Regions from separate parts of the Homo sapiens genome. Here all the other regions are linked to region 3. Evidence: fine-mapped expression QTL. A gene starts in region 3. Each other region holds a variant in brackets. All regions are shown on one strand. Distances are from middle to middle. Region 1 overlaps NRG1 (neuregulin 1). Region 2 overlaps NRG1 (neuregulin 1). Region 3 holds the start of NRG1 (neuregulin 1). Region 4 overlaps NRG1 (neuregulin 1). Region 5 overlaps NRG1 (neuregulin 1).

Evidence for each region. PIP is the estimated chance that this variant, and not a neighbour inherited with it, causes the effect.
Region 1: its variant is fine-mapped to the expression of NRG1 in whole blood (INTERVAL, PIP above 0.99).
Region 2: its variant is fine-mapped to the expression of NRG1 in whole blood (INTERVAL, PIP above 0.99). The same link has a PIP of 0.9 or more in blood mononuclear cells.
Region 4: its variant is fine-mapped to the expression of NRG1 in whole blood (INTERVAL, PIP above 0.99).
Region 5: its variant is fine-mapped to the expression of NRG1 in putamen (GTEx, PIP above 0.99). The same link has a PIP of 0.9 or more in caudate.

What each region holds. Positions count from the first base shown.
Region 1 is chr8:32,583,963-32,588,752 of GRCh38, reverse strand. All of the region lies in intron 1 of NRG1 (neuregulin 1), which reads right to left. Among named protein-coding and RNA genes, the nearest start is that of NRG1, 38 kb to the right of the region's middle. The variant TATAG/G (reference allele first, on the strand shown) is at 2,591.
Region 2 is chr8:32,572,816-32,577,605 of GRCh38, reverse strand. All of the region lies in intron 1 of NRG1 (neuregulin 1), which reads right to left. Among named protein-coding and RNA genes, the nearest start is that of NRG1, 27 kb to the right of the region's middle. The variant C/A (reference allele first, on the strand shown) is at 2,371.
Region 3 is chr8:32,545,625-32,550,414 of GRCh38, reverse strand. It overlaps NRG1 (neuregulin 1), which reads right to left and starts at 2,104. Exons shown (of 12, transcript NM_013964.5): 1 at 1,589-2,104. The coding sequence starts at 1,688.
Region 4 is chr8:32,566,487-32,571,276 of GRCh38, reverse strand. All of the region lies in intron 1 of NRG1 (neuregulin 1), which reads right to left. Among named protein-coding and RNA genes, the nearest start is that of NRG1, 21 kb to the right of the region's middle. The variant G/T (reference allele first, on the strand shown) is at 2,120.
Region 5 is chr8:32,632,507-32,637,296 of GRCh38, reverse strand. All of the region lies in intron 5 of NRG1 (neuregulin 1), which reads right to left. Among named protein-coding and RNA genes, the nearest start is that of NRG1, 87 kb to the right of the region's middle. RefSeq lists an enhancer at 3,347-4,546. The variant G/A (reference allele first, on the strand shown) is at 1,905.

The sequences.
Region 1 (4,790 bases), 38 kb before region 3:
AACCAGCAAACACACTGGGAATAGGCTTCAAAGTAGGGTTAAGATGGCTGGACTCTGGAAATTCCATTCTAGCAGTTCCATGTCCAGCTCCTTATGTAATCCAACGATGTGTATATGAACTACTGAATAATTTCTTTGCAAGCACATAACATGCATAGAACGTTTCATTATACAACATAAAAGAATAAAATTGGGGGCAGTATTTCAGCATTTTATGCTAACACTCATCACAGTGGTGCCACTACAGCCAGAGTTGGCTTCTTACTAGTGCTTCATTTTGATTTCCCAAACATATTGGTTTCCTTTGGTGGGGGATTTTACATACGGATGTCCTCCAAGTTTCACTTCTCACAATTAACTGCTACACGATGACTGAAACAGTATGATTCTTTAAGATATTTGATTTGAGGGTATGAGCCACAATCAGCTCAGTTAAATAGAATGCTTATGCTAAGGCCATTGAAGATGATTAATCAGATTCTCCATCTGAAAACCATACTCAACTGACTGCACTTAAAAAACATGTAGAGGGCTGGGCGCTGGTGGCTCATACCTGCAATCCCAGCTCTTTGGGAGGCCGAGGCAGATGGATCACTTGAGATCAAGAGTTCAAGGCCAGCCTGACCAACATGGTGAAACGCCATCTCTACTAAAAATACAAAAATTAGCCAAGCATTGTGGCACACATCTGTAATCCCAGTTACTAGGGAGGCCGAGGCACGAGAATCATTTGAACTGGGGAGGCAGAGATTGCAGTGGGCACACCACTGCACTCCAGCCTGGGTGACAGGGCAAGAGTCCGTCTCAAAAAACAAAACAAAACAAAACAAAACAAAACAAAAAAACCCACATGTACAAACAGAGGGCCATTCAAGGAATTTATCCCTACGAAATCAAACAAGGGTCAGCAAGTTAATAGCAGGGGGTCACAGTCTCTATTTGGAGGGTTAGGCTATTTCCTGACTGTGTATGTGTCCATTTGGATTGATACTATACCTAAACATCAAAATTTCTGAATTTATTGAATGGAAGATATACAGGATCTCAGGCTCTCCTAACCCAAAGTAGGACTTCAAGTGTCTGCTGAAAGGATGAGGAAGAATCTGGAAGATGCTGACAAAGAAGAAACCCAGGTACAAAATGATTCCAGAGGCCCCATCTATCTTCTCTATGACTTTTTATTATTTGGAATCGTGAGGCCCTGTGACATTGTTTGTGTTCTGCATGCCACTGGGCTAGGACTCTTATGCCGCTCTGCCATCAGACACTAACAAAAATGACATGTAAATCTAACTGGAAAATTGTCAAGTAAGTCGTATTATCTTTACTTTGAAGTTTTCATGTTCTGTATTTCTCTTATCTGGCCATCACTGTTGGAGGACTCTCAAACTGGACCCTGCCTCAGCCGAGACCCTGGTCATGTTCCTTGCTAGCTCATTTATTTCACCTAATTTCAGAGTCTACCCAGAGTGGTCAGACGGTTCTTGTATTATTGCAAGAAAAGCACATTACCTTCTCTGCTTTAATTTTTTTTTTTTGGCGGCAGAGTCTCACTCTGTCACCCAGGCTAGAATGCAGTGGTGTTATGTGATCACAGCTTACTGCAGCCTCAGAATCTTAAGCTCAAGTGATCCTCCTGCCTTAGCCTCTCACATAGCTGGGACCACAGGCACAGGCACACACCACCACGCTGGGCTTTTTGTTTTGTTGTATACAGAGATTCATGTTGCCCAGGCTGGTCTCAAACACTTCAAGCAATCCTCTTCAAGGAATCCTCTTGCTCTAGCCTCCCAAAGTGCTGGGATTATAAGTGTCAGCCACCATACCTCCTATGCCCTCAAGTCAAAGTTGCTCTTCTCCATTGATTGACCATGGTCTACAAGATGCTGGTTTGCTCCCTTAACTGTTAATGTGCCTTGTTGTCACTACATATCCGCAAAATTACTATTTGGTCAAATCTCCTTTCATCTGCAACAGTTCTGGTGTGTATTTCATGTAAGGTACCTAATGATTGTTTCCATTTACAGGTGAGGAGATGGAAACTGATAGGGGAACTTAATGTCGTAAGTCTAACAAGTTGCAGAACCAAAACTTAAACCTAGGACTTTTTACCATACCTAGTTTTTCTACAAAGTTTGAAGTGGAGGCAGAAAATGGAGAGAAGGACAGTAGATTAAAAATCTGGGAAAGATCACTCCATTTCATAGCCACTACAGTAAATTTTTTGTTCTTATAATGAGCTATGTAAACCAAATCACCTCTCCACATTTGTCTGTGAGAAATTTACAATACTGTAAAATTCTACAAGGGAAAATGAATGCAGGTTTATTAGGTGAGATAATTTTTCACCCTGATAATTGAAATTAGTTATTTATTGAAATTAGCAATCTCTCTTTTCTATACAGTTCCTTGCCCTGTACTTCACAGTTAGGGACTAAAGATAAAAATCTTAAAACAACTATAATGTATTTCCAAAGCCTATGAGATGAAGTTAAATAAAGTCCTTTTTATTTACAGTATATTTATATATAGTATATATAGTAGAATGTAATGTATACATATACACATTATATATATATATATATATATA[TATAG/G]TACTTTCAACAATAAACACCTTTGAATAATAATAGCTGATACTTGAGTACCTACTATGTGCCAGGCATTGTTCTAAGAGCTTTATGCTCATTAACGTTTTTAAGTTTTATGATAACTCCAGGAGATATGTATTACTGCCATTATCACCAACTTACAGATGAAGAAACAGAAACAGAGAGGTAAAGTAACCTGTCTATAGTCACACGGCTGGTATACTATCAAGTCAGTATCTGAACCCAGGAAGTTTGACTCCAGAGCCCTGGCTCTTAACTACCAGACAATGTGCTAAAGATTTTATTTAATGATCTATCAATAGGGTCCATATTTTCCTCACAAAACCTGGGATACACCACATGACATTATTTCTGCACTTATTCCACGTGCAAAAGACAGTCTGAGAAATACAGTAGATATGCAAAATTGCTGAATTTTCTGAGCTACTTGGATAATTGATGGGGAAATAAAACAAGGCAATACTTGCGATTGGTGTTAAAATAATTCTTTTGAACTATGCAGCTGTCTATCTGTCATATGCCAAATGCCACAAGGGTGAACAGTGCTGTATCTCACTCCTGTGTTCACTGCGATGTGATAACCCCCACGTGAGGATACAGCAACAAAAGTGGCTTAATGGATTAATGTTGTTCTTTCGAGGTGTAAAGGCAATACACCGTGACAATGAATGCTGGAGCAAATCACTGCGCCGCGGCCAGCAGCTGGAAGGTAAGTGTTCAGCAGGCCTGCCTAATTGATTCTGTCACCACAGCTGCCCCTAATTATAAGAACATCTCACTCTCGGACATAAAGATGTCCAGCAAGCTTCACTGAAAGCAATCAACTCACAGGGTTAAAATGGATCCAGTACAGTTTTACCTAATTGATGTGTAGCAAAGTTCACATGACATAAGCTTATAAATATGATTTTTTCCATTGTCATAAAACAGGATTTTTTTCTTATGCATTATACATACCAGCCATATTCACTTCCAAAATGTTAAACAGAAAAACTGAGAAACATCTAGTTACTAAAAATTAAAAATATATTTACTTATTTTCTTATTGTCAAGTTTTTTTCTGTTCTGATGTGTTTATTGCTTAGGTAAAGTTAGCACATTAACATGATTTTGATATGTTAATATTTGTCTTTATAACCATTTCTTCTTTGCTCAAGTTGAATTACATTTAATTCATGCCACTAAAATTCTCTTTTTTATTTAAAGAAATTTACTTACATGTTCTAAACTAAATAAATTCCCAGGTAAGATGAGTTAGCAATTGATTATAATTAGTTTTAAACAATGATAACTATGTGAAAACTTTTAAGCAGTGCATATAAATGAACAAAGTCCCTGATTCATGATCTAAGAACATTAGTTCCCTATAATCTATTTTTCACATAGCCATTTAAAGCTTATTCCTTCTGTGAAAAAGAAAAATTTTAGCAGAGCTAATTCTGAAACAAATGTGTCCTTTCAGGACTTCTAAAATCTGTTTCTTTGTTATTTAGTCAGATCTCCTTTCTTAGTAATTATGGCTTTCTGATTTTTTCATTTTTGTCCACAGATGACTTATTAAAGAGAATGATACTAAAACCTTAGTACCTGCCAGGATTGAAAGCCTTCTTTACTCGTTGAGGCCTACAATATCAAAGTTAAATTTCTCTCTTCTCTGTTCACTACAGTTTTAAGTAAGCAACGCTGCATCCCTTCTTCAGCAGGGTCCACATTTGACTTTCTAAGGACCTTTAAAACCTCCTTGCACTCTTAAGCAGGTCCATGGACAACCTAACGATTGAATTCTTATCATTTTACTTCTACCCCACAGGAAGATCAGGGAAGGCAAATTCCTTATCTTAGGGTTCCCAGTGACATGAATTTGCTGAAGAGGTGGAAAATAACCAAAATCAAATTAAACAGATTGTTGACAGTAAGAAACCTGGTGCTACATTATTCTGTGACTACATTCTGTGGCCACTATAACTACAAGGCTGCTGCACTTTCCCGTACTGTCCTCCAAAGTCAAACCGTATGATGGAAGTCAGTGCCCTTTGGTCTCATAAAACACACAAAAAGAAATCCCAATAAGAAAGAGTCCAAATAGTCTCCCCTATTTTACAAAAAGCATAAATTCCTTAAAGAATCTTTTGAAAGTGAAAGTGAGCTGCTTCCCACACATTCTGACACAACCCACTGACT
Region 2 (4,790 bases), 27 kb before region 3:
ATTCTTGTTGGTGTTCAGTTTATAGTTTCGTAAGTTTTGAATTCTCTTCACCTAGCCCTACTTTTTCCAGAAGCCTCTTTATTTTGTGTGTCATTTTGCAAAATGAGTTTTGTTTTGTCTTGCTTTGTTTTTCCCAAAAAATGCAAGCATGGAGTTACAGCAGAAATGTCTGTGGCAGGACAGGGACCTGTCAGTGGTGTTGCAGACAACTTCCCCAGGCCAGAGGTTCCCAAACCTATAACTGTATACATAAGTCACTTGAGCAAGTTTACTAAAATGAATATGAAATATTCATGGAACCCATTGAAAGACTCTGATTCAGTAATTCAGAGAAAAGCCTAACAATATGCTCTTTTACATGGAATCAACCTAGGTGCCCATCAGTGGTGGACTGCATTGAGGAAATGTAGTATATACACACTGTGGAATATCATGTAGCCATAAAAAGGAATGAAACTGCATCCTGTGTAGCAACAGGGATGCAGCTGGAGGCCATTATCCTAAGCGAATTAATGCAGGAACAGAAAACCAAATACTCCATGCTCTCACTTATAAGTAGGAGCTAAACATCAAATACTCATAGACATAAAGATGGCAAAAACAGACACTGGGGACTACTAGAGCAGGGAGGGAAGGAGGGAACAGGAGTTGAAAAACCAACTATTGGGTACTATGCTCAGTATCTGGGTGATGGGATCATTCGTACCCTAAACCTCAGCACCACGCAATATCACTCATATGACAAACTTGCATACGTAGGTTGAATATAAAATATAAGTTGAAATTATTTTTTAAAATAATATAAATATAAATATAAAATATAAGTCGAAATTATTTTTTTAAAAAGAGAAAAATATAGGGAAAAAAGAATCTGCCTTTTAAACAAAAGCATCGCAGGCGATTCTCATACAGGTGGTTAGTATGGGCACAACTTTCTCATAAATATTACACTGTGCCAGGGGCAGCCCTCTCCAAAAGTTATATGGCATTTACAGAGTTAATGTCCACCCCATAAAGTCTTTCCAGTAAAAATGTTTTGTTTTGTTTTTTTAAGAAAAAATGTTTAAGATTTATTGCCCTGGGTAAATTATAGGGAATTGAGACTTAATTTCACTTCTGAAAAAATTCAGAATCTTGTAGAAAGAGACAAATGAAAATTATGGTTCAATTGGCATTGGGATAGTTATCTACAAGGCTCAAATTGTTAGCACTCATATTCAAAATAATAGCCAGGAGTCAATACAGGGTTTAAAAATTATTTTTTAAAAAACAAAAAAAGAAGAGAAAATGAGGGAAAGAGAATCAAATATTCCAAAAAGTTTCTCCTGAGCTAGACACCTCCTTCCATTTTTATGTGTCATGTGAGATGGACTATTCTCTAAGGGCTGAAAGTAATTTCATAATATTTAAACAACTGATTTAAAATAATTACATTATTTGAAAATTGCTAAGAGAGTAGATTTTAAATGTCCTCACCACAAACAAATGGTATGTGAGATGATGACACGTATGCTAAATAGCTTGCTTTAGCCATTCCACAGTGTATGCATATTTCAAAACATCACGTTGTATACCATAAATACATACAATTTTGTCAATTTAAAAATTAATTAAAAATAAATTTTAAAAAATAAAACACATATTAATCAGGAACACATTTATTTTGGAGAATTCCTATGAAGGTTGCTTGAAGATACTTTTTTCCTAAACTTTAGAGCTATGTAAGACAAAGAACCCATTTTAAATTTGTGCTTTCTATAAGACTAGCATATCTGGGTCCTCAGATTTAAATGACCAGATCTAAAAAATAACAGTTAAGAATTATAAAAGGTGTAAGAACTGCCATTCCCAGACCAAGTTTCACCCTTATTAGAACATTCAAGCCTTACATTGGTGTCACCATTTAATCTTTACAAGAATACTCTCTCAAAATTTCCTACTTTATACTTATTTTCTAGGTAACCATGAGCATTAAATGCCCACAGGGATATTATTATCTCCAGTGTAGATCTCTACTTTAAGATCCAGACTTTGTTAATGTTGCTTGTCTTAAAAAGTATAAATATCCATGCAGTTGAGCAGTCCTAAAATACAACTTTTCCTTTACTCATGCCCTATCTCCAGCCCACTACAAAGTTTAGTTAATTTTACTACCACCCACCCCCACTTTCCCATCCCCAACCCTTCCAGGAAGGGAACTTTTATAGTATTAGGCAATAAGCAGAGCCGATGAACTAGTAATTAGTCAACTATAAAGCAACCACAAAAGTAGGAAAGAAGAGAAAGAAGAAGTAGGCCAACCACAAGGCAATTGAACATGAAGTGAGCTAAAACATGCATCCTAGAAAAAGAGGAAGTAGCCAAGAATGA[C/A]ATATCATGAAGAATGGCAATGCCTATCATGAATGTCTATGCCAGAGGGGTATGTCCAACCAGTATGGACACTAAGACAAAGGTCAATTGTGAAACCTGGGGAAAAATCTGAAGCTGGAGTTAGAAGAAGAGGTATTCCTAGGGAGCAAGGAATGGGATTTATGATCTGCTGTTCAGCTTTATTCTATGTTTGGCTTTAGATTTGTCTAGGGTTTACTTCTGTTCCTGAGTCATCTGGAGTTCCCTGAAAGCAGAGAACTCCATGCTTTCAAGGTTGAAGCATAACTGATTCTCTCACAATCTGGCATTCTGAACAGGATTGAAGGTTCAGAAATTCTATGTACTAACATAGGAGAGTTAGGTGGCAAAGCTGTAGTGTAAACTCTATGAAACAAAGATTACACATTGTGTTAGGCCATTCTTGCATTGCTGTAAAAAATAACTGAGACTGGGTAATTTATCAAGAAAAGAGGTTTAACTGGCCCACAGTTCTACAGGCTTTACAAGAAGCCTGATGCTGGCATCTGCCAGGCTTCTGGTGAAGCCTCAGGGAGCTTTCAATCATGACGGAAGGCAAAGGAGTAGTGGGGGACATCACATGGTGAAAGCAGGAGCGAGCAAGCAAGAGAAAGAGAGAGAGACCACACACTTTAAAATGACCAGATCTTAGTCATTATCATGAGGACAGCACCAAGGAATGGTGCTAAACCATTCATGAGAAATCCACCCCCATGATCCAGTCACCTCCTACCAGACCCCACCCCCAATATTGGAGATTACAATTCAACATGAGATTTGGGTGGGGAAAAATATACAAACTATACCACACAGTGATCTGATCAAGCACTGAATTTGAGATTTCTTAGAATTATATATTTGGGTAAGTTTATTAAAAGCCTTTTGAAGACCTGATGAAATGAGAGAGGGAAATGAGGCCTGGAGAATGTAAAATTAGAGACATAATTACGGAATGTCTCACCCACTTGGAATTTGAATAATTGCATCTACCCAACCAGATTAGTAATGTATAAAATCTTCTATCCTGTTTAAATTTGAGAGGTTACAGCATTATGCTCCTAAGATCTTTAAAAGGTCATGCTGCTATAAAGACACACGCACATGTATGTTTATTGCAGCACTATTCACAATAGCAAAGACTTGGCACCAACCCAAATGTCCAACAATGATAGACTGGATTAAGAAAATGTGGCACATACACACCATGGAATACTATGCAGCCATAAAAAATGATGAGTTCATGTCCTTTGTAGGGACATGGATGAAGCTGGAAATCATCATTCTCAGCAAACTATCGCAAGGACAAAAAACCAAACACTGCATGTTCTCACTCATAGGTGGGAATTGAACAATGAGAACACATGGGCACAGGAAGGGGAATTTCACATACCGGGGACTGTTGTGGGGTGGGAGGAGCGGGGAGGGATAGCATTAGGAGATATACCTAATGCTAAATGACGAGTTAATGGGTGCAGCACACCAACACGGCACATGTATACATATGTAACAAACCTGCACATTGTGCACATGTACCCTAAAACTTAAAGTATAATAATAATAAAATAAAAAATAAAAATAAAAAGGCCTTTGATAAACTTACCCAAATACATAGTTCTAAGAAATCCTAACTCAGATTCCTAATGAAAAGACAGAACTGGCTGGAGAACATAAGCAACGCCAGGTAAAGAAAAATTGAATATTGCTACAGCAAATGGTAAGGATATATATTTTATGTCAGGATATTGGGATAATAGTATCTCTTCAAGGAATATTATAGAGCAGAGGTCAGCAAAATACGGCTCATAAGCCAAATCCTGCCTACCATCTGTTTTTGTAAATAAAGTTTTATTGGAGCACACTTGCATTCATTTGCTCATAAATTGTCTGTGGCTACTTTTGTGCTACAACTGCAGAGTTGGGTCTCTACAGAAATGTTTGCAGATCCCTGTTATCGAGTCAATAAGTCATCATGGAACATCTGTAGAATTTCATCTAGCAATAAGTATTGGCAGGTTTCATAAAGACAGACAGCAGAATGGGAATAATCCATGCAGGGTCTGCATTTTGAGGTCTATGAACAAACTGGATATACAGAGTAGAATATTCAGAATGTTATCTGAGAATGCTAAGGGAACTAGAACCCCATTCAGATAAGGAGAAGAAGCTAAGATATACTTACGATAAATGTTGCCATTACTCGGTTCAGGCAAAACATTGTTTGCAAGTGGGGATAGGATATACAGATTAGGAAAAATGGTGGCGAAATTAACCTCAAAGTCAGAAAATAAATATGTCGCAAATTTGTAGATTAATATATTATTTGATATTTATTTATTTGGTGTGTATAATTTTATTTGATGATGATTTCCTTCTTTGAAAAAATGAGATGACAGATTCACCCA
Region 3 (4,790 bases):
AACGATTTGAGCTAGGTCTGAAATCTCCGTAATGTACTATGATGACCTTAGAAAGGACAGTAGACAAAGTCACGCAGGGAGGTAACTAATCCAGCTCCCCAATTTCCTATCTTGTTGAATAAAGTGCTATGGTCTCTCCCCAAAATATAGGGTAAAAATAAGGGAAAATTCAATACACCCTCATGAGGGGCAATGATCAGTAATTGAAGTGAATATGATCAGCAGGATCTTATTAAAGAAGCAAGCACAAGAATGGCCAGTGGTGAAACAATTACTCTCTGTTCAATTTCTGTTTTGCTCAAAACTCTGCTGAAGGTCTCTGCCAATAACCCAGGTTCTGAAATGCTATCAGTGATACCAGTAAGAAGACCAAGCAAATGTGGTTTGTTTTCTTCCAGCAAGGGACAAATACTTCTACAGTATTACTGTAGCCACAGTATTATCAAGTACTAGTGAATTAATTCTGCAGAAGTGCTTCATGAAATGTGTGTTGGGGGTACGCTCGAAGCGACTTAAGGCATCTGGATCAATTAATAATTGGGAATTGCAGAGGCAAAAAATAAATTCTCCCCCATCTCCTTCCTCCCCTCTTTTATCAGCTACCTACCAATCACTCATAAACAAGTATTTATTCGACATGCCTCTTTTGTCCAAGGTAATGTCCAAAGCATCAGCGCTTCCTAGGGACATCTAAGGTAAAGCTTTTGTTCATGCTCGTGTTCTGATGATGAAATACAAGATTTGTTTCTAGAAAGCTTCAATTGCCATTTTATTATATAGATAACCAGCAAACAATTGGGTTCAAAAATTCAGATAAACGGTTGTTTTCTTACATCTCTTGGGAAAGTAAATTATCCATATTTATCACAGAGGTCTTGAAAAATAGAACTGTTAAGCCAAAAGTTTGTAGAACTTGTTTGGGGCAGAGCTGATTCCTGACACTGGACTAGATTTCATCTGCTTCGCTGACCTTTAGGAATCCCTGCCGCTGCTCTTGAGTCTCCGTAGCACAGGACTGAATCAAGATGAACCGGCGCGCACTCTACATCGCTTGCCCTGTGCCCCAAAACGCCGAAGCTAACTTCCCACGCGGCCTCTTGCTCGACCACCCACTTCTGCGCTGCCAGGCACACCGAGGGGACCGGCTCTCCCTCCAGGCGGCCCATTCCAGCGTTTCCCGCTAGAGGGCACACGGCCCCCGTGCAAAGCGCTTATGGCGCGGGGCACGCGCGCACGCAGCCTCGACTCCTATAGCCCAGGTCCCACTCCCGGGCTGGGCTCAGCCGCTAAGGCGCTGGGGAGGGGCCGTGCCAGGGAGCGAAGCGCTCCCGGGACTCTGGGAGGGTGCGGCCGGGACTGCTGTCCCTTGCCCTGAGCTCTGGGCGTAGGCGCCCGGTAGGACTCGGCGCCCAGGTGAGCGGCGGCCCCCAGGAGGGGAAGCACCGCGCGACTCAACGGGCGCTCAGAGCGCAGGGCGAAGAGGACGGGCGAGGGAGAGGGGGAGGGAGAGGCCACGGCATCCGAGGAGGAGGAGGAGTAGGAGGAGCAGGAGGAGGATCGTGGGGCCCGGGCCGCGCTGCGCACCCACCTGGGCTCTGGCTGCCCGCCGCGGACTCCGGCTTCTTGCCGGAGCCTCGCTCCTTCTTCTTGCCCTTCCCTTTGCCTCTGCCTTCTTTGCGCTCGGACATCTCGCCGGAGACGGAGCGCTCTACGCGGACGGCTCTCGGCGCAGGCGAGTTTGGTCCAAGGGCTCGGATCGGGTTTGGGAAAAGTTTGTCCCTCGAGGGGGAGAGCGAGCGGCCGCGCTGAGGCGCTCGCGCTGCGCGGGGGCGTCTCCCGTTGCCTGCAGGGAGCGCGGCGCGGACGCGGCGGGCGGTCCGGCCACCTGGAACGGGCGCTCGCCCTGGCTCTCGGGGCTGCTCCTGTCGCCCCGGGAAGTCGTCGATGGGTCCCACCGCTGGCGGCTCGCGTCCTGGCCTCTGCCCGGCGCCCTCGCAACCCGATCGGGGAGAGGTTATCACCGTCCTGCTCACGCTCCCATCGTCCGGCAGCCGCCGCCGCTCAGCTCCTGGCCTCCGCGCGAGCCCGGAGTTCCAACAAGTTTCGGGGAACTCCTCGCCGGCTCTTTTTCAATTGCCCCGCAGCCACCCACCTCCCGCCCGCAGGTTGGAGGCAGGCGCCTCCTTCGCACCCTCCCCTGGCCTCGCCCCCTCCCTCTTCCCCACCACACCCCCACCCCGAGGCGCGGACACGCCACCGGGAGGAGCCTGGGCTCGGCGCTCCCGGGCGCAGCCCCTTTTCCTCCCGCGCTGGCCGGGCGGGGGGTGGCGGCGCGGCTGCCGGGAACCCCCGACAGGGGTCGCTGGACGCTGCGCGGAGACCGAGGCCAGCGCCCCGGAGACCCGGGAACCCAGGCGGAGACCCGAGGCTCTCGCTGCCCGCTCCCCTCCGCAGCCAGGCAGCGCCTGGGAGGGCTGCTCCGTCCCATTCCACGCGGAAAAGGACGGCGCAGAGAAAAGTTTGCGACTCCCACACCTGTGCCCCAAGCAGAGTCTCCGTGGTCAGGAACCCTGGGAGGGGTGCGGGGGGAACGTTGGTGGCTTTCCCAGAAGAGTTCGGGGTTCATTCCTTAACTCACTTAAGTACAAAAGCCCTGTCGCACGCAGGCGAAAATAAACTCTAGGTGGAAGGGAGTTTAAGATAAGGCTTCCTTCCAGGTGCACAGGAAGGGCTAAGCGAACCTTAAAGATGCTAGGTTGCGCTCTCCTGCTGGGTCTGCGCCGTGTGCGTGTGTGTGTGTGTGTGTGTGTGTGTGTGTGTGTGTTTAGTAAGTGCCTGTTAGAAATCTTCAGCTTTTCCTTAAAAAATAACCTGGCCTCTTCTAAGGGGGTGCCCTTAAACTACGTCTCTTACTACAACTTAATTTTCAGAGGAACTGATAAAAAACATAGTTCGGAGCACGACTCAGAATAATTAAAATTACTGCAGCCGCTGAAAGTCACTCAGTTCTGCCGAGTGGAAAAGCAGGCAGGGAGGGGTAGAATAAAGACACAGAACTGGAGATCCTTAATTCGTGAATGTGGGGTTTCTCAGATTCAAACTTTACTCAGAACTGCGCGTGAAACCTACTCCTTCCCTTGTCCTCCCTCTGGTGGAGAATTCTAAAGAGCAAGGAAATAAGAAGGCATTGACCCCTCCCCTGCAAAGGACAAAAGTTAAAGACCAGGGTAACGGGCACCACGGAAGGATCCAGAATTGTCTACATGTAGAGAAAACATTCTCAGAGTTATACCACAGCTGTGGTTAACTTAGACTCTTAATTTACAGTGAAATACTCTTGTGTTGTGGTCGGGAAGTGGTGAGTTGGAACAATCCATATTCAAAATCTATTGCTTCACTTTAAAAGTGACTTGCTCTTGGTTTTCCATTTTCTGGGGTCAATGCTAACTGAACCATTACCTACACACTACCTTCTCACGGTATTTTCTGATGGCCGCAATTTAAATAAAAGTGCAGTCTGGAGTGTCTCCTTGATATGTAGATGGGAAGGGAGGGAGGGAAATATGTTCACTTTAAAACTGTCCTAAAATCACACTAATTTTATTCTAGTTTAATTTGCACTGTCATAAGAACGAAACTCTGTTGAATGGGTTTAACTGTGGAAAGATATCCTAGCAGTCTTGCCATCATTATTTATAGTTTAAAAGTTTGATGTCCAAGTAGCTTCTGATAGCCTTCCTACAAACACCAAATATAAATTTCACTGGGCTATAAAGACAGCAAAAGCAGAGAAAAGATGATGAATATATCTCAGTAGCACTATTAATATTCCACAGAGACGTATGCAAGATGGAGTCTGAACACTGGCTGAAATAACTCTGTTTTCCCAGGAGGGGGCCACTGCTCAGTAAGCAGGAAATAGCAAAATTCAGAGAAGTCCTTTCAAAACAGATATTTTGTCCCAAGGATGTGAGACAGCATAAGGGCTTAGTATACACTACCACATATTCTCTAACATGGCATTATGTTAGAATTGAAGGACTGAAAGCAAAGATGTATTCTGGGATTCTTTTTTAAAAAATAAGATTTTCCCCAATTAAAAAAAAGAAGCTCAAAATCCATTTCTATGGAAATGTTGTAATTCTGCTACTTTTGTTTAGGGTCTGGATGTTTTGCTTCAACAAAACAGCTTACTGGTCATTTTTAGAGTAATTTTTCAGTGAGATAGGGGAAGAGCCTACGATTTTGTGATACATTTTCATTTGAATGAACCTGAAGAGGTAGTTGACAGTCTTCCAAAATTAAGCATACATGACTACAAAAGAGATTACAGATACTATGGTGGCTTTAAGATAAAACGTAAAAGCAGGATTCCTACAGGAATTTTAGGGCTGAGGAATGAATGAATATGAAGGGAGGGAGGTGAGTATAAATGAGCATTTAATAATTGTTTTTCCTTGGTTTGATGTGATGGAGGGGAAAAGACAGGACAAAAATTGCAATGATAAATATTGAAGGGACTTTAAGGAAAGATGATGAAATGGCAATTGCATGACAACAATCCTTTCTGGAACCATATCCAGATTCTCGAGTTACATTTTAGTTATCACTTGTAGCTGAATTCTCAGGAAATTCAAGGCTCAGTCCAAAAAGGTTTTTTTCTAAAAATCGTTAGGTCTTTATGTTATTTAATGTTAATTTTAAGGGGTTTTATTACATTATTTATGGCCAGCTAAAAGATTAACCAAATAAATGTCCATTTCTTGGACAGTTAAAACATTTATGAGATT
Region 4 (4,790 bases), 21 kb before region 3:
ATTTCTGGTGAGTAAGGAATGCTAAGCAGAAATTAGTAATAGGGCCCGGCATCCATTATTACTAGTTTCAAATGTAGATGTCATGTCATTGCTGTATCTTTAATTTGGAGCACTGTCTTTATTGTTTTATGTTACTGGCTATAAAAATATTTATGAAGACTATAACAAGTTCACTCCTAACTTCAATCCTCTTAACCCACCTTTCCCACCATAGGCTTTTCTAGGACCTAACCAGGCGCAGTTCATGTGGACATCTATATACATGTTGCCCATATATTCACACATAAACTATGCTCTTCTTTCATACATAATATGGAATAAGGAAGGCACTTTTTAGAAATTTGGCTCAGATTAACTTTCTGGGCATGACAAACTCAGTGCAAATTCATATCATTCACCTACACTCCTGTCTGTTACCAATACCCTATAATCATAATTCATATTAACATAATTATCTTAGTATTGATTACCTAAAATATCCATAATCATCAATAATTTGTATCAATACAAAATAATGTATGTGACACTTTATCTTAAAGAAAGGGTCCTTTCAAAACAAGAGTTGATAACAAGGACTTTCAGAAATTAGGACTTTCTGAAGCTGGGAAATACACTGAATGTATGTATTTACATACATTTGAAAATATTCTGATTTTTATTCATCTTAACAAGCTTAATGATAGAGTGGAGCAAACCACTTATTTAGAAATACCATTTAAATTTTTTCTGATGAACTTGATGAAGTTCAAGTAGTGGACAACACCAAAAAAAATATTTAAAAGCAGGCCCTTTCTTTTCTGAAGTTTTTATATATAAGTCAGAGTTTTATTTAAAAGTACTTCCTAGCATCTTTAGAATATAAGCTCTCCATGGATAAGAATCATGTCTGTTCTATTCTCTGTTTATTTCCAGAACCTAGCACAATGTACAGAATGTATTAGGTACTTAATAATTATGTGTTGAATAAATGAATGCACAAGCTTCCTATAAGACCTAAAATAAAAGGTTTTTAAAAAAGAAACAGCAGAACATGCATGTTATATAGAAAATATAAAGATAAATATCAGAGGCCAGGAGCAGTGGCTCACGCCTGTAATCCCAGCACTTTGGGAGGCCAAGGTGGGCGGATCACCTGAGGTCAGGAGTCCGAGACCAGCCTGGCCAACATGGTAAAAATCCCGTCTCTACTAAAAATACAAAAATTAGCCAGGCGTGATGGTGTGTGCCTGTAATCCCAGCTACTCAGGAGGCTGAGGCAGGAGAACTGGTTGAACCCAGGAGGCAGAGGTTGCAGTGAGCCAAGATCGCGCCACTGCACTCCAGCCTGGGAGACAGAGCAAGACTCCATCTCAAAAAAAAAAAAAAAAAAAAGATAACTATCAGAAAAAGAATTAACTAGAATTGTTGAGAGGGCTTGTTTTTAGGAAAGAAAACTAGAGATGAAAACGGATGGGAAAAGGAACTGATGCCCACCCCCAAGGTAAATGTTTTACTTGTGTATGATTGTTTTAAAAAACAATGAGCTCACAATAATTTAATAAAAATAAAATTTTATTTAAAAAATGGTGATTTCTATACAAGCCTGTATTTCTGATAAATTATGAAAGAAAGCCAGAAGCAAATAAACTGTAATATTAAAGTGCAGAAAAGAATAAATGAGAAAAGAAAGTACAAGTGCTTCCCTGGCAATAAAGACAGTTTTCATATAATTTTTTTCAGACAGATACCAAGTATAAGTCTACTATATAATCTTTTCTTTTTTAAAGGAGAAAATAGACAGAAAGTTAAACAAGTAAGAGTATAGCTTTCTACTGAGGCAATCCCAGATAAACTGAACTACAGTATCACTAAAGTGAACCATCAGAAATGTACGTATACATGCACACACAGTACGCACAGCACACACACTTCAAGAATCATCTTGGCCTGGCCAGGCACGGTGGCTCATGCCTGTAATCCCAGCACTTTGGGAGGCCAAGGTGGGCGGATCAGTTGAAGTCAAGAGCTCAAGACCAGCCTGGCCAACATGGCAAAACCCCTCTCTGCAAAAAATTCAAAAATTAGCCAGGTGTGGTGGTGTGCGCCTGTAATCTTAGCTACTTGGGAGCCTGAGGCAGGA[G/T]AATTGCTTGAATTTGGGAGGCAGAGGTTGCAATGAGTCAAAATCGTACCACTGCACTCCAGCCTGAGTGACAGAGCGAGATGCTGTCTCAAAAAACAAAAAACAAAACAACAAAAAATGATCTTGGCTGATTTCGGCCTTTCAATGTAACTTACTACTTCCACAGGGTAGTCTGAAAAACTTTTTTTTTTTTTTCCATTTCAAGGATTTTCATTTTCACATGGCTCTTGGATGAATTACTTTTGTTCTTATTTATAATCTTTGTTTGTTTGTTTTATTTCTCTGTACTAACAAGATATTGCCTGCAAGTAAAAATTTGTTTTGACACATTTGCTAAAATTATACAATCACAGCAAGTCTCTCAAACCTAGATACTATTTTCAAAGATCTCTTTTGACTTACTCAGGCATGCAAACTTTCATAGTGAGCAGGATTCTCTGCAGGCATGATCCTAAAACTTTGGCGAACATTAGAATCCCACAAACAGCTTATTAAAACACAGGATGCCGGGCCCTATCCCGGACAGCTTCATTCCAGGAGCTCTGGGGTGAGGCCAGGGGATTTGCACTACCCACGAGTTTCCAGGTGATGTTGATGTTGATTTCACCCAGCAGAAGAATCTCTTACTAAATGTCTCCTGGTGTTCTAACTTCTATCATTTGAAGTACTTGGATATATTCCCAAAGCATATCTCTATCATCCATCATTTGATAATACTTGAGTTTTTAAGAATAAGCCTGATGATTTTAAATTTCTTTACCTAAATTTAACTTAAAGAACTAGTGGAAAAACCAAAGCAAACTCCAAAATCCACAGTGTAAAGCATAAAAAGCTCAAAGAGATTCAGTGAGTTAGCATTCTCTTGAAGACAAAAGTGATAACAGCTCACTTGGAGGAAACTTCAATATTGAAACGAGCACTTCGAGATTTATGGTGTATTTTAGACATGTAGGAGCAACTGTCAAGAGAGAATGAGCTCTATTGCAAATAAGTGATTCCCAAGCAGCGAATGACCAATCCCCTCCCATTCATATCCTAACCATATTATTTTCTGCTTTAATAATACTTAGGCCTTAAGAATAACGGAAACACCTGGAGTTGATTTTAACACTACTTTCTAGCCCAGGGAATGGTCCAAATCCCATCAGGCTAAATCTCACCCTTGACCTGCCAAATATGATTACTGGAGTCCAGTCACTTCCCTGCATTCTGCAGCTGTTCTTCCCCCTTCTCCCTTCATAATTATCACATCTACTTCTCTGCCCAGAACTCTAACAGCAGTAAGAGCACACACTGCCAATTCAAGTGGAAAAACAATTTCTTCAATTGACACTCCAAAGCAAAGACGCTTGTGTTGACCTCTTCTGCCAACTATTTGTCTAGGCAATGCACACGCCTTAAGACACTTCAAAGGCACTTTCATTGGTGATGGCTTGAAGCAGGCACTGCTAGGGTGAAACAGCAACTTAAGAGTGCCAGGGCAATAAAACACAACAGTTTATATAAAAAAGAAGTGAGGGGCACCCAAAGTTTTTACGTCCCAGACAAGGCAGAAAGTGAAGTTCCAAACTCATCTACATAGATCCAGTGGCATCAGATAATGGACCACCAGGCTGCAACACTCTCCCTGCCTTGGCTATGGGACTTTGGTCAAGTCATCTAACAACACATCATTTTACTCTTGAAGGCTAAGCATCAGACTAGGCCAGAGAAATTTCTTTTTTAATCTAATTTTTGATGCATTGGCAAAACCTGGTTTCTTCTCTTGTAAACTTGGTAGCAACCACAGCAACTGCATTCAGTGAGATTTACACCTTGTCAAATTTTTCTTAGCCATATTTTGCCCCATTTCATTGAGATATTTAGGATTAACACATTGACATTTTGGTTTATAAAGTCCATCCCTTCCCCACTTGAGGCATTTCTTAGAGATCTTCTTTCTCAAAATTGACCAGATATAAACTTCCTTAGATTCTGAAGGCTAACAAAACCAGAGTCAATTCATCCAAAGAATGCTACTGGCCAGGTGCAGTGGCTCATGCCTGTAATCCCAGCACTTTGGGAGGCCGAGGTGGGCACTTGAGGCCAGGAGTTCAAGACCAGCCTGGCCAATATGGTGAAACCCCGTCTCTACGAAAAATACAAAAATTAGCCGGGTGTGGTGGTGCCTGCTTATAATCCCAGCTACTCAGGAGGCTGAGGCAACAGAATCGTTTGTGGAGGTTGTAGTGAGCTGAGATCGCGCCACTGCATTTCAGCCTGGGCCACAGAGCAAGACCATGTCTCAAACAAAACAAAACAAAACAAAACAAAATGCTACTTTCTGAAAATCCCTAACTTAGGTACTCTTCAGATCAACAAATTGTTTCTGAAGCATTAATATTTTCCTAACATTTTTAGCTCCTTAATGACTAATGATTCCTCTTCCATTCCTGGAAGGTAAGTTTCTCACAAGAACCTCCTGGCTGGAAACAATTAAAAGTGCTGAATGAAATATAATAAACATCACCTTAAAAGAATTTGACAAAAAAGATCATTTTTTGGACAAATTCTAAGGCAAATCTCAAACCTTAGAGATAGACGCAAAATACCTGGACAAAGCAACTACTTTTTCTTCAAGTGCATTTGCTCATCCTGGAGAAAGGGATAGAGGCTCCAGGATCTTCCTGAA
Region 5 (4,790 bases), 87 kb before region 3:
ATGCTGGGATATTTGGGGGTAAAATGAACTCATATATACAGGAAATTTCATCAAAAATAAAAAGTTGATAGATAAATGGGTAGACACTCAGTAAGCAAATATAGGAAAATATTAACTGTAAAATCTTGGTAGTGGGCATAAGTTTGTTTACTGAATGATTAATTCACCTTTTCTCTATGTTTGAAAATTTCATAATAAAATGCTGGAACTTTTTAAAAAATTTTTCATGGTGTTTCTGGGTTCATATATGAAAGGAGCCTATCTTGATATACTATAGTAAGTTTTATTATAAAACTCATTACCTATGCCAAACAAACAAAATAATCCACCAATGCTACATTTAGTAACCTCCACTTGCTTATTTTTTTCCTTCTCTGCATCATCCCCCAGCCTCCACCCATCACTACCTCTTTCCCCTACTACTTTTATTTTAAGGAATTGATTTTTAAGATGAATTTCAAAATTATATCAAGGGTAAAAGATTCATATAATTTTAACCATTATCTAATGACAATGAGGTATCTTTATATGGCAACCATTAATTGCTATAGAACATCTAAGAGCTTTTTCTGTCCCCCTCCCCTCACCCAATACCATTTTTTTATTGAGAAGGGATTTTCCTTAATGCTATACTTCGATCCCTGGGGAATTAGAACATCTATGAATAATGTGACTTGAGAAAATGTAAAGTTCACATTACTGAAAAAATCTGAAAGGTTAGATGCTAAGCTTATTCTGTTGAAATCAGTAGAATCCTTGGGTTATTCAGGACGCTCCCATTCTGAACACACCTTTTCCAGTGGTCAACTGGTCAGTGGACCCTAAGGCCAGAGGCTCCAATGTGAAGGTTGAGCTTCTCTGCTGCTGGATTCTCCACCCAGTGATTCACACAGATATTTTATAAACTATTAAATATGTATGATGCAGTACAAAGCCCCTCTAAAAGCATCCGTATTTAACTAAATCATGTCCCTGACAGCAAGAGGCAGGCAGAGCAATTTAACCTAGCAGGAAAAGTACTTCTTTTACAAATTACTGCAGTGCAGAGCTTCAACCATATGCTTCTTTTTGCCCCCACCCCCTGCGCCCGAACACATCCAGTAAGAAAGGAACGGCTTAACTTAATTTGTTTGAAATGCTTTTAGATAGGATTCTAAAACAAAACATAAGTCTTTAGAAGTGTTTCTCAAAAATTTTACCACCTTAAGGCTTTGCCACTACTCTGTCCCTAGAGATCAGAGAAATAACCCAGCCTCAGGTTAAGTCTCCTTAACTTGGGGTTAAATACCTGGAATTAGCCCTGTCTCTTCTATCATGCTCTTCCAAATGTCTACTGCTGTTTACTGACTGACATCAAAGGCATCTAAAAAGTATCAATGTACACCTAGATCCCCCATATTCTTCTCTTTCACCCTAAAAAAGATTCAAAGAAAAAAGTTTTGGATGGAAACTTCAGGGCACATCAAAAGTTAAATGATTGTTACCCATTCACAACCTAAGGCCAAAGAATCTAGTGAGATAAGAAGAACCAATTAAGCAGTTTTCCAAGGTACCTAAGCATTTGGCAATGCAAAAGAATAGCAGAGGGATCTCTACATTTTTAAAAAACTGCAATGACAATGTAAAACATTTTTAGAAATCTCATGCACAGAATTAACTGTGCTCCCAGAGACAGGTGGTTTTACAATAACCTGTGGTGGGGGAAAAATGTGTTGAATGAGTATAAAAATAACTAACTTACTGTCAAAAAAAAAAATCAGGGCTAAATGCTTGAATTGTCCAACTCAAAATGAAATGGCATGACTGTAATTCAGCCAACTGATCAGGAAATGTGCTGTGCAGCATTGAAATGAACTTCTTTTCACAATCTGGCAGGTACAAAATGGAAAACCTCAGGATGACCT[G/A]CTTTTCAAAAGCAGTAGATTTCAAATTTTAAGGTCACTGTACAGGGTGTAATAAAAATAGCTACCATTTCCAAAGACCTAATCTGTATGTTAATTTACTTAGCTACCCATCCACCTATCCATCCAAAAGATGTTTACTAAATGACCGTATCTGTGACAGGCATTGTGCTGGGGTTTGTAGATTTGGTAAGAGGACATTAAAATAATTTCCATCTTATAGTTTTCCTTTTCTTCTAAAGTAACAAGTGCAATCTGCAGAAAGTGAAGGCATGATTTGAATTTTTAGAGTGGTAAGGTCCGAGTCACCTTAGAAAATGGAAGAGAAGCCTGACTGTGAAAAACAGAAACAGGTCAGACATTGTGCCAAGTAATATATATACATCAGTTCTTATTTATAATCTTTACAATCAGTATGCAAAGTAACTGATATTGTTCTTATTTTACAGATGGAAAAAGTGAGAATTTAAAAAGATGCACAGATAACCCACAATTACATAGCTAGTAAGTGGTGAAGCAAAGATTCAAACCATCTGAACTTCAAAAGCCATTTTTTTCTGTACCACTGTACAATATCTTTATACTGATACAAAGTATGGAAGAAGACTTTCAAAGCATTTTTTAAAATCATCAATTACATAAGAGATCATTGTTTTTGTTGTTGGGCTCTACAATAAAATTTTTATTTGGACTTACACAAGACTCAACAGGAGGAACAGAGAACAAAAGAAGAAAACAAAAAGTGATGATGAGAATATACATGTTCACATACATATTACAGTTTCTACTTTGGACAGATTTATTTCTCCGATCAGTTTAGCTTTTTCCAACACCAGGATTTAATGTGGAATATTAGGTTGTCAACTTAATTATGCTATGTGTCTTAAGTCTGGCCATGACGAAACCAAACCATTTAAATGATGTTGCTAGTAAGTACATGAATCAAAATAATTTAACATACTAAACAGTATGATGGCCCTCTGTTGCATAATTCTTTGAGCATCAACAAGATGAAGGAAGAAGGCATGCCACAAACTCAGTTTAGCAGAAAAATGTGATTTCTCTCTTTCATTTTTTTAAGAGTTTTAATCAGTATTTGAAAGCACCATACAATTACAGCAAATTAGAAATTAAAATAAAATGAAAAGGGAAGATCAGGTCAGTAGTTACTGTTTCCTCTGCCACAGATTTCCCATTTATTTTTAAGAATGTATGCTTTTTCAAAGTTTTTCCACAGACATTCTAGGTTGATCCTGTCTCTGCTGCTTTATGCAACCTTTTTTTTTTTTTTTTTTTAAGACAAGATCTTGCTCAGCCTCAAACTCCTGGGCTCAAGTGATCCTACTGTTTCAGCCTCCCAATTGGCTGGGACTACAGGTACATGTCACAACACCTGGCTAATTTTTAAAATTTCTTTGTAAAGATGGGATCTCACAATGTTGCCCAGGCTAGTCTCGAACTCCTGGCCTCAAGCGATCCTCCTGCCTCAGCCTCCCAAAGTACTGGGACTACAGGTGAGAGTCGACTCATCTACAGACTACTGCTCCCGGCCTTAAGCAACTTCATTCGTTCCTTCAGTTATTTTTTTAAGCAAGTGCCTCATATGTACCAGGACCTACCCAAGACTGAGAGAAAGAGGAAGGAAGGCACTGGGGAAAGAGATTGCAATCGTTTCTGCTTCTGTGATATTTAAATTCTAGTGGAAGATTTAGTTTTCCTAATCTTAGGTGGGCACAAAGGCAGACTTCAGAAGTAAGAGTCCATAGTCTTATAATGGATTCTATTTGTGCAGTTGACACATAGTGGAGTCATTCTTTTTTAATGAGCCTGTCAGGAAACACTGTTTATTGTATATGCATGTCTAAGTATCTGAAATTTTCCTTCACTCCGGATCCAGTTATGGAAATGTTTTCTTCTGATAGTGTTTTGTTTGATTAGTGATAGAAGAAGAATGCAGAATTCAATTCCAGAAGGGATCATGCCCAGGCAAGAGGCCTTTGGAGGTACTGGACAATTACAAGCAGAAAAACATAATCTGTCTGTTTCCATTCTCGGTAACCATCAAAACAAAACAGCCACAAAAGCAGACTAGGCTGTCGTAGTAATTTAATGATTGCATTTTTTTAAAGCTGTTGTCTTGATTGTTTTTGGTAGATGGATTAAAATAAATAAATAAAAGAAAGCATTAATACAGTTTATTATTATCTTTTTGATGAATTGAAGCCTTCTTATTTACTGGTGATACCAAAGCACAATTTTAAAGTACAGTTAGTCAGATTTCCTGAATTGTTAAGGAAATGTGTTAATTTCATAGAAATTCTAAAATATCAGCATAAAAAAGTAGTCAAAAATCAAAGAGAAAAAAATGAATTACATGCATATAGATATATATCTGATTTAAAAATTTGTTGCTTATAGACCCTGGGTTAATTAATAAGGAAATTCTACAGGAATCAAAGAAATAAGTGTTAAACATTTTGACTAAACATGAGTCCTGATAACAACCCAGCTCTGCAAAATCATTGGCATGTCAAATGCTAACAAGGATGAGAATGAGTTTTAGAATTAAACTTACAAGCTATCATCTTTCTAAATGAATGAGCTGCTCAGAGATGAACTGATGGTAACTAAAGAAATCAATAATAAAATGATCAGGATGAACATCCTGTATCATATTAGAAACAATTTTCCCTTCTTTCAGTTAATTCTGATGAAAATATACAAGGCTCTAGAGCAACAAGTTTCTCATCAACATCTAAATCAATCTGAATTTTTTATCCTTATGATAGAATCATAACACTGAACATTGTCACTGTGTGACATGTCCATTTTTTTTTTTTTTTTTTGAGATGGAGTTTTGCTCTTGTTGCCCAGGCTGGAGTGCAATGG